2 separate regions of the Homo sapiens genome follow, and region 1 is linked to region 2. The links come from fine-mapping of genetic effects on gene expression. A gene starts in region 2. The other region holds a variant in brackets. All regions are shown on one strand. Distances are from middle to middle. Region 1 overlaps HECW2 (HECT, C2 and WW domain containing E3 ubiquitin protein ligase 2). Region 2 holds the start of STK17B (serine/threonine kinase 17b).

Region 1 (5,381 bases), 38 kb before region 2:
CAACCTAAATGCCCATCAATGGTAGACTGGATAAAGAAAATATGGTACATATATACCATGGAATACTATGCAGCCATAAAAAAGAATGAGATCATGTTCTTTGTAGGAACCTGGATGGAGCTGGAGGCCATTATCCTTAGCAAACTAACACAGGAACAGAAAACCAAATACTACATCTTCTCACAAGCGGGAGCTAAATGATGAGAACACAAGGACACATAGAGGGGAATAACACTCACTGGGGCCTAATGGAGGGTGGAGGGTCAGAGGAGGGAAAGGATCAGGAAAAATAACTAATGGGTACTAGGCTTAATACCTGAGTGACAAAATAATCTGTAAAACAAACCCCCAGTGACACAGGTTTACCTCTATAACAAACTTGCACAAGTACCCCTGAACTTAAAATTAAAAAAAAAATTACATTGCACACATGGGAGAAAAATGGATAGATGTCCTTCTTACTTAAAAAATGAATCCTGGCTGGGCATGGTGGCTCACACCTGTAATCCCAGCACTTTGGGAGGCCAAGGCGGACGGATTGCCTGAGGTCAGGAGTTTGAGACCAGCCTGGCTAACATGGTGAAACCCTGTCTCTACTAAAAATACAAAAATTACCTGGGCGTGGTGGCATACGCCTATAGTCCCAGCTACTCGGGAGGCAGGAGAATCGCTTGAACCCAGGAGGCAGAGGTTGCAGTGAGCCGAGATGGCAATGCTGCACTCCAGCCTGGGCGACAGAGCAAGACTCTGTCTCAAAAAGAAAAAAAAAGAATCCTCTAAGAAGTCTGGCATGGTCTTGTGTCGGGCATGGGAGTTTCTGCCCTGGAGGGTTGGAGGGGCTGTAAAGGATGAGGGCAGTCCTGGCAACCGGAGCAATGAGGGAGAGAATCTTAGTCTTTCTAGACAAGGATGATGGAGGGCCTTTCAATTTTCAAGCAGGCAAATGTGAGTCTCATTCTTTTCTCAGATTTCCTAGTCTCACTTTGCGGTAGCAGTGGATAGCGCTGCTCACAGTATGAGTCAAGGAGTATATAAAAGTATATATGGTTGTCTCTGCAGCCAGTGCAAGTTGAATCCATGGCTCTTTTTTCCTCTTGTGGTTATGAAGTGACTAGAGACCCAGATGATAAATAAGGATGTAGACAGAAGGGTGTCTCCATGGAGACCTACAGCCTGAGCACATGACTGCACTTCCTCTGCTTCGCGGTCGGTGGTTAGCTCTGTATTTTGCATTTCTGTGGAAGACTTCATACCCCTGGTGCTCTGATGGACTTTATGAAAAGAGAGTACATTCACTTTGTGGCAATTGCTCTCAAACAGTCCAAAAAATGCGCTGCTAAGATGCCAGCCTGAAAACTGCAGAGCAGTCCTGTCTCCCACCATGGTGTGAGTTTCTGTGTTCATCCCCCAGGTTCTTGCCAAGTTGGGTGATGGGACGGAGGACCTGAGAGCTGCAATCGTCATGGGGGTGTGTTGGTTATTGCCAAAGGGAAAAGCGTTAATTTTTGAAAATGGCTGTGTCTGGAGATTATTATGAATGAAATGCTAACTGAAATTAAGAAATAAATTGTAAGAGTTAATTATGAAATAGATGTCTTATGGAGACAGTTAATCTAATGGAATAGAACTTTAAAAGATAAAATTATTTTTTAAAAACATAACAACTTTTTGTTTTTAAAATTCTGCTTTTTGGCAGAGTGCAGTGGCTCACACCTGAAATCCCAGCACTTTGGGAGTCCAAGGCAGGCAGATCACTTGAGGTCAGGAGTTTGAGACCACCCTGGCCAATATGGTGAAACCCCCATCTCTACTTAAAAAAAAAAAAATACAAAAATTAGCCAGGCATGGTGGTGTGCACCTGTAATCCCAGCTACTCGGGAGGCTGAGGCAGAAGAATCACTTGAACCCAGGAGGTGGAGGTTGCAGTGAGCCAAGATCATGCCACTGCACTCCAGCCTGGGTGACAGAGTGAGACTCCATCTCAAAAGAAAAAAAAATCTGCTTTTTATTCTAATTTATAAAAAGAAAATTTTACAAAAAATTGCTAAGAAATATATGTATATATTAAATATATATTAAAATACCTACATATGTATCAATCCAATGTCCACCCAATGTCCACTACTAGCTGGTCATGGTGGTGCATGCTTGGAGTCCCAGGTACTTGGGAGGCTAAGGCTTGAGCATGGGAGTTTGAGTCAAACCTGAGCAACATAGAGAGATACCATTTCTGAAGGAAAAAAAAGTCAATTACTAAGATAAGCTCTGTTAACATGTTAGAGTATGTGATTTCACTCATTTCTTCAGGTACACACAGGCACACAGACACACACATACACACACACACACATTTTAAAACAACATTCCGTTTATCACATGGAACATCTTTCCATGTCATTAAATATTGCTCTGTAATGTTATCAATAATTCAGTTTTCCCTCCTCCATTATAGGGAGCATTGTCTACTGTCAAAGTGAATTATCAGCCAGTATACCGGAAAATAACCAAGTCCTGAAATACAATGTCACTTTCCTCAATTAAAAGAAAAACCAGGCTGGGCACAGTGGCTCACGCCTGTAATCCCAGCACTTTGGGAGGCCAAGGTGGGCAGATCACGAGGTCAGGAGAT[G/C]GAGACCATCCTGGCTAACATGGTGAAACCCCGTCTCTACTAAAAATACAAAAAGTTGGCCGGGCGTGGTGGTGGGCGCCTGTAGCCCCATCTACTCGGGAGGCAGAGGCAGGAGAATGGCGGGAGCCCGGGAGGCGGAGCTTGCAGTGAGCCGAGATCGCACCACTGCGCTCCAGCCTGGGCGACAGAGCCAGACTCCGTCTCAAAAAAAAAAAAAAAAGAAAGAAAGAAAGAAAAACCATCAGAACAAGAGATGAGTACTAGAAGGACCCTTTGGGGCCATCTCCTTTCTATATTTGCCCTGAGGTGTCCCTCGTTGGTCTTCCTAATTCCCTACCGCCTGCTGATGAGCTGATGTGGCTTTTCGTGTGGGAGAGAATTGACAGGAGATTCTCATACAGTGGTCTGCTCTGTAGTTGAACCTCAGGTCCAAGACTCTCTTCAACTCCTTTCCCCTCTGCCCTCTCACTCAGTTCTATATAACTGTATTTTAAATTTTCACTTTATTCTGCCATTGAATCTGCATGTACTAACAAAAACATGCCAGAGTTAACCCATCACATCACCATATTAAAGATTCTTAAATGTCATATACCTTTTGGATTGGTCTTTACTTTGGGAGGTGGGTAAATTTATCATAAAAACAGATTGTATTAAAAAAAGGGACTCTTCTGTAATTAATGTAAAACGTCAAGCTATTGAAAGAATTTGTGACTTTAATGGAATGAGATAATCATTCCACTTGCATTCCATCAGCATTGTTGCTGCTGACAACAGAGGACAGGATAGTCCAAGTCAAATCTACTAAAGGTCCTTGAGAGCTATTTCACAAGTCAGATTTTAAAGTGTCTATTTGTGAGTGACAGACATTGCAACAGTTAAAGAATGCTTACCCACTTTTCCTTGGCCTCAAGAGCAAAAACCAGTTTGGGCTCATTTCTTTCCACCAGCCTAGTCCATGACACCATCCCCCCTCACCTGGACTACTGCAGTAGACTGCTGGCTAAATCCCCTGCTTCTCCTGCATCCCACCATTCATTCATTCTGCACTCAACAACCACTGGGATCTGCAAACATCTCAAGGTCACCTCCCTCCCTTGCCTACACCCTCTGGTGGCTTAGAATAAAATCCAGACTCCTTCCCAAGGACTTCCTGTGGGGCCCTGGTCTGCCTCCTCCTGCAACCTCAACATGTACCCTCTCCCCCAACCCATGACACCTACCAGCCTCCTTCTGTGTATTCCTCAAATATGCCAAACTCAATTATGCTTCAAGGCTCAGGGAATTGCTGCCTATAACACTTATCTGCTGGTCCTTCATGCCTGGCTCTTTCTTGTCCCCAAGACTCGGGTTAGAGGTGATCTCCTGAGAAAGGCCCACCAGGCTTCTGTCCTTAGTGCACCTGTCACTCTTTCACCCCTTACTTCCTTCACTAGGCTTGACCCAATTCAGTCATCATGTTCAGTTATTGGTTTACTTGTTGATTATCTGTCTCCTCCTCTGGAGTATAATCCTGTGAGAACAAGTACCTTATCTGAATTAAACATGGCTTTGCTCCTAGCAGTGAGCCCAGTGCTTAGCACATGTACTCCATAAATATTGTTTTTAGTGAATTTGAAATCTTTAGGGATAACTTTGGACCACTCCAGACAAGAAATTCCAAAATCATAATCCAGACTTTCATATCTCTGTATCCATATCTGAAAAGTTGGGATAGAAATTAGCATTTATATTACAAAGTTGTTTTGAAGATTAAATGAGATAACATGCAAAGTGCTTAGAATAAGGCCTAAAACATCATTCAATAAATTTAGCCATTCTTACTATTCTTCCTAATATCTAGCCTTCAGGGCTGGCCGGATACTTTATAGTCTTTAGGTGTGTGAGAAATGTGCCATATTCACCCAGCGTGTTTGTATTTTGTTTGGACTTACAGGGGTTTCCATTCCTGGAACTGTCCTTACTGGACTTTGTTCTGTTTGGTTTAAATTCTTACATTTGAAAAGTATGTACCCTCTTTATCTCTCCCCAGAGGCATTCACAAGTGAAGAAGGTACCTGCTCAGAATGCATAGTTTGAAGAGTTTCTTCTGCTAGTTACCCCAGATACAGGAATTCCCCCCTATGGGAATATTCCACTTTGTATTTACAGATCCAAGTGCACCTTAACCAAAGTGACCTAATGAGACTTTGGAATAAGACATTAATTAGTGAATAGATTAATTCCCCTCACCCGTCTATAGATACTCCTCATGGCTTTACTAAGTGCCGAACCTTGTGGGAGATATACGTTGACCTTAAAACACAGGGAGAGAAGCAATGGATATTTACATGAACAGATAACCAACATCATTGGTCCCAAAATGGAACATGACCAATGAGTAGTTGGAATAGCAAGCACCATAGAATTTCTTTCCATGAATTCACCTTTACCGAACACCTGGTGAAGGTCAGGGCATTGTGCTCTGCTGCCATAAGTTACACACATATTTGTGCCCTACTCTTAATAGGAATTTCTGCTCTAAACCTCATGGCCTAAGAAGGTATTCATGAGGATATTAGATAAATTATGAATATTTTAAAAATTCTAACAAGTTTTACCATTAGTTGTGTTAATAAAGCTACCCAGGCTAACAAAACTATAACTGGATTCCTTTAATGGAATTCGATCACTCTATTTAATTGGTAACTTTGGATTTCTCATGCTGATTTCACGCCCTTGAATTCATCATCTGTCCCTCTACCCATTTCCT
Region 2 (5,381 bases):
GGAAGGTCCCTTCCCTGGACAGAATATGGTGAGTGTCGTGCCATTACCGGAGAGGATCACCTTCCCTGGCCACATGTGGTAAGCAGTGACTGGGAACGATCATCGCTCCCAGTCAGTGTGTGATTACTAACCTGGAGTGATCCAGGAGGACCACTGTATTTGTTTGCTTGGACTGCCATAACAAATACCACAGAGCGGACAGCTTAAACAACAGACAGTTCTGGAGGCTAGAGGCTGTTGATCAAGATATCAGCAGGTCTTGTTTCTTCTGAAACCTCTCTGCTTGCTTTGCAAATGGCCACCTTCTTGTTATGTCCTCACAGGGTGGTCCCTTAGTCAGTGTTGTATGTGTCCTAATTTCTTCTTATCAGGACACCAGTCATCTTGGATCAGGGGCCACTCATATTATCTCATTTTACCTTAATTACCTCTTTAAAGGCCCTATCTCCACATACGGTCATACTCTGAGTTCCTGAGGGTTAGAATTTCAACGTATGAACTGGAAAAGAACACAACTGAGCCCATAACAACCGCCATCCCTGGTCGGAATGTGTCATTCAAGGATGGTCAACTTAATGAACTGTGTGGTCAGAAGCAATGACCACAGAATGACCATCAGGTCACCTGGAGATTTCCTACTCAAGGGAATGAGAGCAGGAACATATATCTTTGACACGGTGATGAATGAGTTTAGGTAAATGAGGTGGATGGAGGAATGTATTGACTTCTGAATTTTCCTGCAAGGCCACAGATGTACTGCCTCCTCCTCAGCACCAGGAATTCCTTGTTACTTGAACCACAGTGCCTGAGACCAAGTAAGTGTAGTTGAATGTCCTTGGGATAGTGTGGTAAGTCCTAGTTAACAAATCTGACATCAGGCACAAGGGTTAACAATCTATTTAGGGTCATAAAAGAAACACAAACTATCAGCCCTGCACCAAAGAACATAAGGCAGAGGTGATCAGGCTGGGAACAGAAAGTAGGAATCAGCAGAGTTCTGATTCCTGAAGAGGGTAACCTTCTTAAAGTCAGAAACTGATGAACAGGTATGGATGAGGAGGATGGTGATAAGCTGGAGCTAAGGCAGAAGCAGGAAAATGCAAGACATGACAATATCCCTAGGAGGCTGGCTGGTTACAGCAGAGGTATTGTGACCAAGAGGACTGGCTTACAGTGGTGCCAGAGAGAGAAAAGTCTGTGTCTAGGTGTGAAGTGATCTGGGACTGGATTAGTGACGGGGAGTATGGGGTGAGTGTGAGAAGATTGCTAAAAGCTGGCAATTGATGAAATGTTGAAATTAAGGAGGTCCAAAGTTAAACACACAACCCCAAAACCACCATAATGATGTAATCCTGTGACCCCCAAGAGGTTACTAGTTTTGGTACTGGTGCTGAGACCTCTGGAATGCAACACCTATGCTCATGAAAGAAAAGATGGGAACAGTCTCATTGCTTACGGATTCTTATACCCCAGAAAAGTTAATTCCAGTGTGTGGCATTTTATTTTCATCCTAACTTTAGGCTTCTCTAGTCAGCCCAATTGTTAGCAACAAGAAATTAGATAGATGGAAGCAATATTCTCCATTTGACAAGGTTTAGGGGCAAGACATTATTAACCTGGGAGGAGGAGTTAACCTAAGTAACAACAAACAGACTTCATAAAAGGGCTGTGATGCATTCTATACCTTTATCTTGGGGAAAATGCAGTAGGAAAGGGAAACAGCTAGCTTCACAGGAATTTGCTTGGCTTACTGGGATAGAACAAGAAAACCTGTCCTTTATATGCTAACTGAACATTAAGTCTTTTGAAAGCAAGAGGACGACTCCACTCCCAGTATCCTTTCCCACGGAAGGGTTTTCTGCAATTATCGTAAATGTCCTCTGAAAGCAATCCTAGATTACATAACTAATCCCATATATGTATGAGTATGTGTGTATCCTATACATATAAACTAGGATTATATATCTATGTAAAACATTTGTGTCTTGCACAGAACTTTGAAAATTTCCACTGTCTTCAAAGGATAACAGATCTTGAGTAGGTTGCTGAGGGCTTTCATCTTTTTCCTTAGCACTATAAATGCAAAATCGGCTATTCAGCCTATTGGGACCCTCCCTACACTGCCTTCAGTCAGTGCCTCAGAAGGGACACCATTCGCGACAGCGGACGTTAGCAGTGGGGTCTAGGTTCCATAAATCCCCAACTGATGTTGACACTCCGAGGAACCTCTGCCAAGTTGTAGCAAACTGGGTTCTCCACTTACAGGGTACGTTCCGGTCCTAAGGAAGACTCTCAAGAAGAGTCAGAAAATAGGTCTTTGGTAGGCACTGAAGTTTGGTAACTAGTCGCAGGCAGCTGGGACGAATTTTGCGGCTTCCTTCTCCCCGGTCTCCGGATATTCACACCTCTCGAACTGACCTCTCTGAAGGTGGGAAGGAGTACACAGAGCAGTAGTTCCAGCCCCGCGCGCCCCCTCTGCAGCGCCGCCCCCTCCGCCCCTCCCTCGCGGCAGCCCGAGTGCGCCCCACCTGCGCCGCCACGCCGCCGCGCCTCCCCGCCCCGCCTCGGGCCAGCCAGGCGCCGCACCCTCTCACCGCCGGGCCCCGCCCCGCACACGCGCCCCCGGCCGGTGCCCCGCCCCTCCCGTCACGTGACAGACCCACCCTCCGCACCCGTTCCGATTGGCTCTCCCGACCTAGGGGGAGGGATCTGGCGAACGGCGATGCCCCAGACGCGGCTGCAGTTTTCAAACCGCGACTGCAAGCTTCGGTAGTCCTCTCCGCTGCTGTCGCCAGGAGTCACTTCACGAGAAGCCAGGTCACAACCGTCGGCCCTTGTCTGGAAAAGTAAAAGTGGATCCTGCCACGTTCGGAGCTCCCTGGCGCCTCGCCCGGCTGGAGCTAGAGAACTCGTCCTGTGGCGGCCCCCGGCGTGGGGCGGGACAGCGGCCCCCTGGAGGGGGCAGTCCCGGGAGAACCTGCGGCGGCCGGAGCGGTTAGTGTCCTGCGGGATTGGCGGGTTGGCTCGGGGCTGCGATGGAACCAGCCGCCTCGGTACAGAGACCTCATACGTGAGGAAGGAGGACCCGAGGAGGGTTTAGGCGGTACGGTCCGGCTGAGAGGGGCTTGGACTCCGCCGCCCCTGAGGTGGCTGATTGCTGCTGGCGCCTCTCCGCTTTGCGGCTGGAGTCCGGGTTCCCTGGGGCTCCGCGCGGGGGGCGGCCGGCGGTCCTCCCACCACCCTCCTCAGCCCGGGGCGCGTGTCTGTGTCTGTGCGTGTCCGTGTGTCCCCGTGCGCCCTCCACCCGGCCGGCCCCGGCTCTCCCCAGGTCGCGCCAGGCAGGGCCCCCTTCGCGGCGGGCCCGCGCGGGTCCCTTCCACAGCAAGGCCACGCGGTCCCCCTAGCCTCTCCCGAGTCCCAGCTGCGGCGTGGGCGCGTTCCCATCGGGACTCGTGGACGCGTCCTGCTCCCAGCTGCCTTTCGTCTAGAGAAAGTTCGTGTTCATCTTGTGGGACGTTTTCAGTTACTGCTTGGGAACAGTGTTTTAAAACCAGCGAGAGATCAAGACGGGCTACAGCTGTTTCCGTGATTTTCAGCGATCTGATTTTTGCTTTGATGCCTTGTGACCCACTTAGTGTGCACGACTCATCCTCAAACTATACCACTACTGGATGCCAACGATTTTTGACATTTACCCAGGCTCTTTGTTTTATTGTAGGGAAAAGCGTTTCATTTGAATTTCCTCCGAGGGAGAAGTAGAGACAAAGTTGAAAGAGGCTTTATAGCAGCTGGTAGCTGGCATTAGTTTCTGTCTGGACTAGAGGCACTCTGACATCAATTTGGAAATTGGAATTAAGAAAATACGTTTTTAAAATCGTAATACTTATCAGATTTCACTAATATTTAAACACATGAGGACTGTGTATCACATTCACCGATTGTTTTGTCGACGTAATGTTTACATCTGTGGTGCTAATGATAAGCAGAACCTTGCCAGGGACGTTTGACGTGGTGTGGCCACTTTACGTTTTCAAGTCTATGAGAATGTCTGCGCGGAGACAGCATAGCTCTGTAGAAATGAGTGGCAGCGTATGTAACCTGGCATTTTGAACCCAGGAGCACAATTTTATTAAAGGAAAATAAACCTACTTTCTCATTGATAACACTGTTTTTTAGTTTTATGGTGAACTGTTCGGAAGTAATTTTCAACAAGTGCTTATTTTATAAATATTAGACCGTGTACCCCTAGGATTGTGTATTTTTTAAGAAAACTGGTCCATAGAAGCGGTGCAAAAGTTTTAAACTCATCTGCCTCGGATCCTCCTCCTCTGAGCAGATGCTCAATTAAACTTTTTCTAGTATCTTAATAATTGGAGGTATTAATAGATGTTTTATTTTTGAGATACATATTGTACATTTTAGATCTTTTTTTTTTTCTAAAGTAGGGATCCAAAATTGAGGTGAAATATATTTGCTTACATGGCAAGACTTTTTAAAAGTAGAATTTCTGTAATTGAAGACCATCCTTTTTTGTGTGTGAATAGAATGGTTGCGGTTTCTCTTGGGATCATTGATTAGTGAATTACGATTTGGTTAAGATAGAATGCGTTTTTAGGAAGTTGGAGGTTTGACTAATCGCTGTGTTAGCATATGAGTAACAAATTTGAAGAAGATACAAGCATTTTTATGGCTGACGTTTCTAATCAGATAATTTTATTTTTAAGCTTGCTCTGTTTTACTTTTGTTAAGTGAACATTTTAACATGTTTTAAAGCTCTTTGATAATTATAAGGGAGAATTTCCTTATGAAAATATTTTTGCTTTAATTTTAGAGACACAAGAAGTCAAGGAATTCAGTTAATAACACTTTCACTTAATCGTTAAATTGCCTTAAAATTGCATGCATAGTATATTGTAATTCACATTTTCTGTATGTAAGATTGGCAGTTAAGAATAGTATTCTGGCCGGGCGCAGTGGCTCAAGCCTGTAATCCCAGCACTTTGGGAGGCCGAGGCGGGCGGATCATAAGGTCAGGCGTTCGAGACCAATATGGTGAAACCCCGTGTCTACTAAAAATACAAAAATTAGCCGGGCATTGTGGCGCGCGCCTGTAGTCCCAGCTACTCGGGAGGCTGAGGCAGAAGAGTTGCTTGACCCGGAAGGCCGAGGTTGCAGTGAGCCGAGATCACGCCACTGCACTCCAGCCTGGGCAACAGAGGGAGACTCCGTCTCAAAAAAAAAAAAAAAAAAAAAAAAAATAGTATTCCTAGGCTTACTACTTTTAAAGGATACTGATTGATTCTTCTTTTCATAAAGAAATCTTCTGCACTGTATGGGTATTTGTTTTGTCAGAAACATTAGCAGTCATTTATCTACTACCT

Evidence for each region. PIP is the estimated chance that this variant, and not a neighbour inherited with it, causes the effect.
Region 1: its variant is fine-mapped to the expression of STK17B in whole blood (INTERVAL, PIP above 0.99). The same link has a PIP of 0.9 or more in subcutaneous fat.

Annotation. Positions count from the first base shown.
Region 1 is chr2:196,207,234-196,212,614 of GRCh38, reverse strand. All of the region lies in intron 28 of HECW2 (HECT, C2 and WW domain containing E3 ubiquitin protein ligase 2), which reads left to right. Among named protein-coding and RNA genes, the nearest start is that of STK17B, 38 kb to the right of the region's middle. RefSeq lists an enhancer at 840-889. The variant G/C (reference allele first, on the strand shown) is at 2,630.
Region 2 is chr2:196,168,946-196,174,326 of GRCh38, reverse strand. STK17B (serine/threonine kinase 17b) reads left to right here and starts at 2,749. Exons shown (of 8, transcript NM_004226.4): 1 at 2,749-2,994. LOC101927454 (a long non-coding RNA gene) reads right to left here and starts at 2,788. Exons shown (of 2, transcript XR_923737.2): 1 at 2,696-2,788; 2 at 1,479-2,422. RefSeq lists silencers at 2,454-2,683, 3,204-3,423.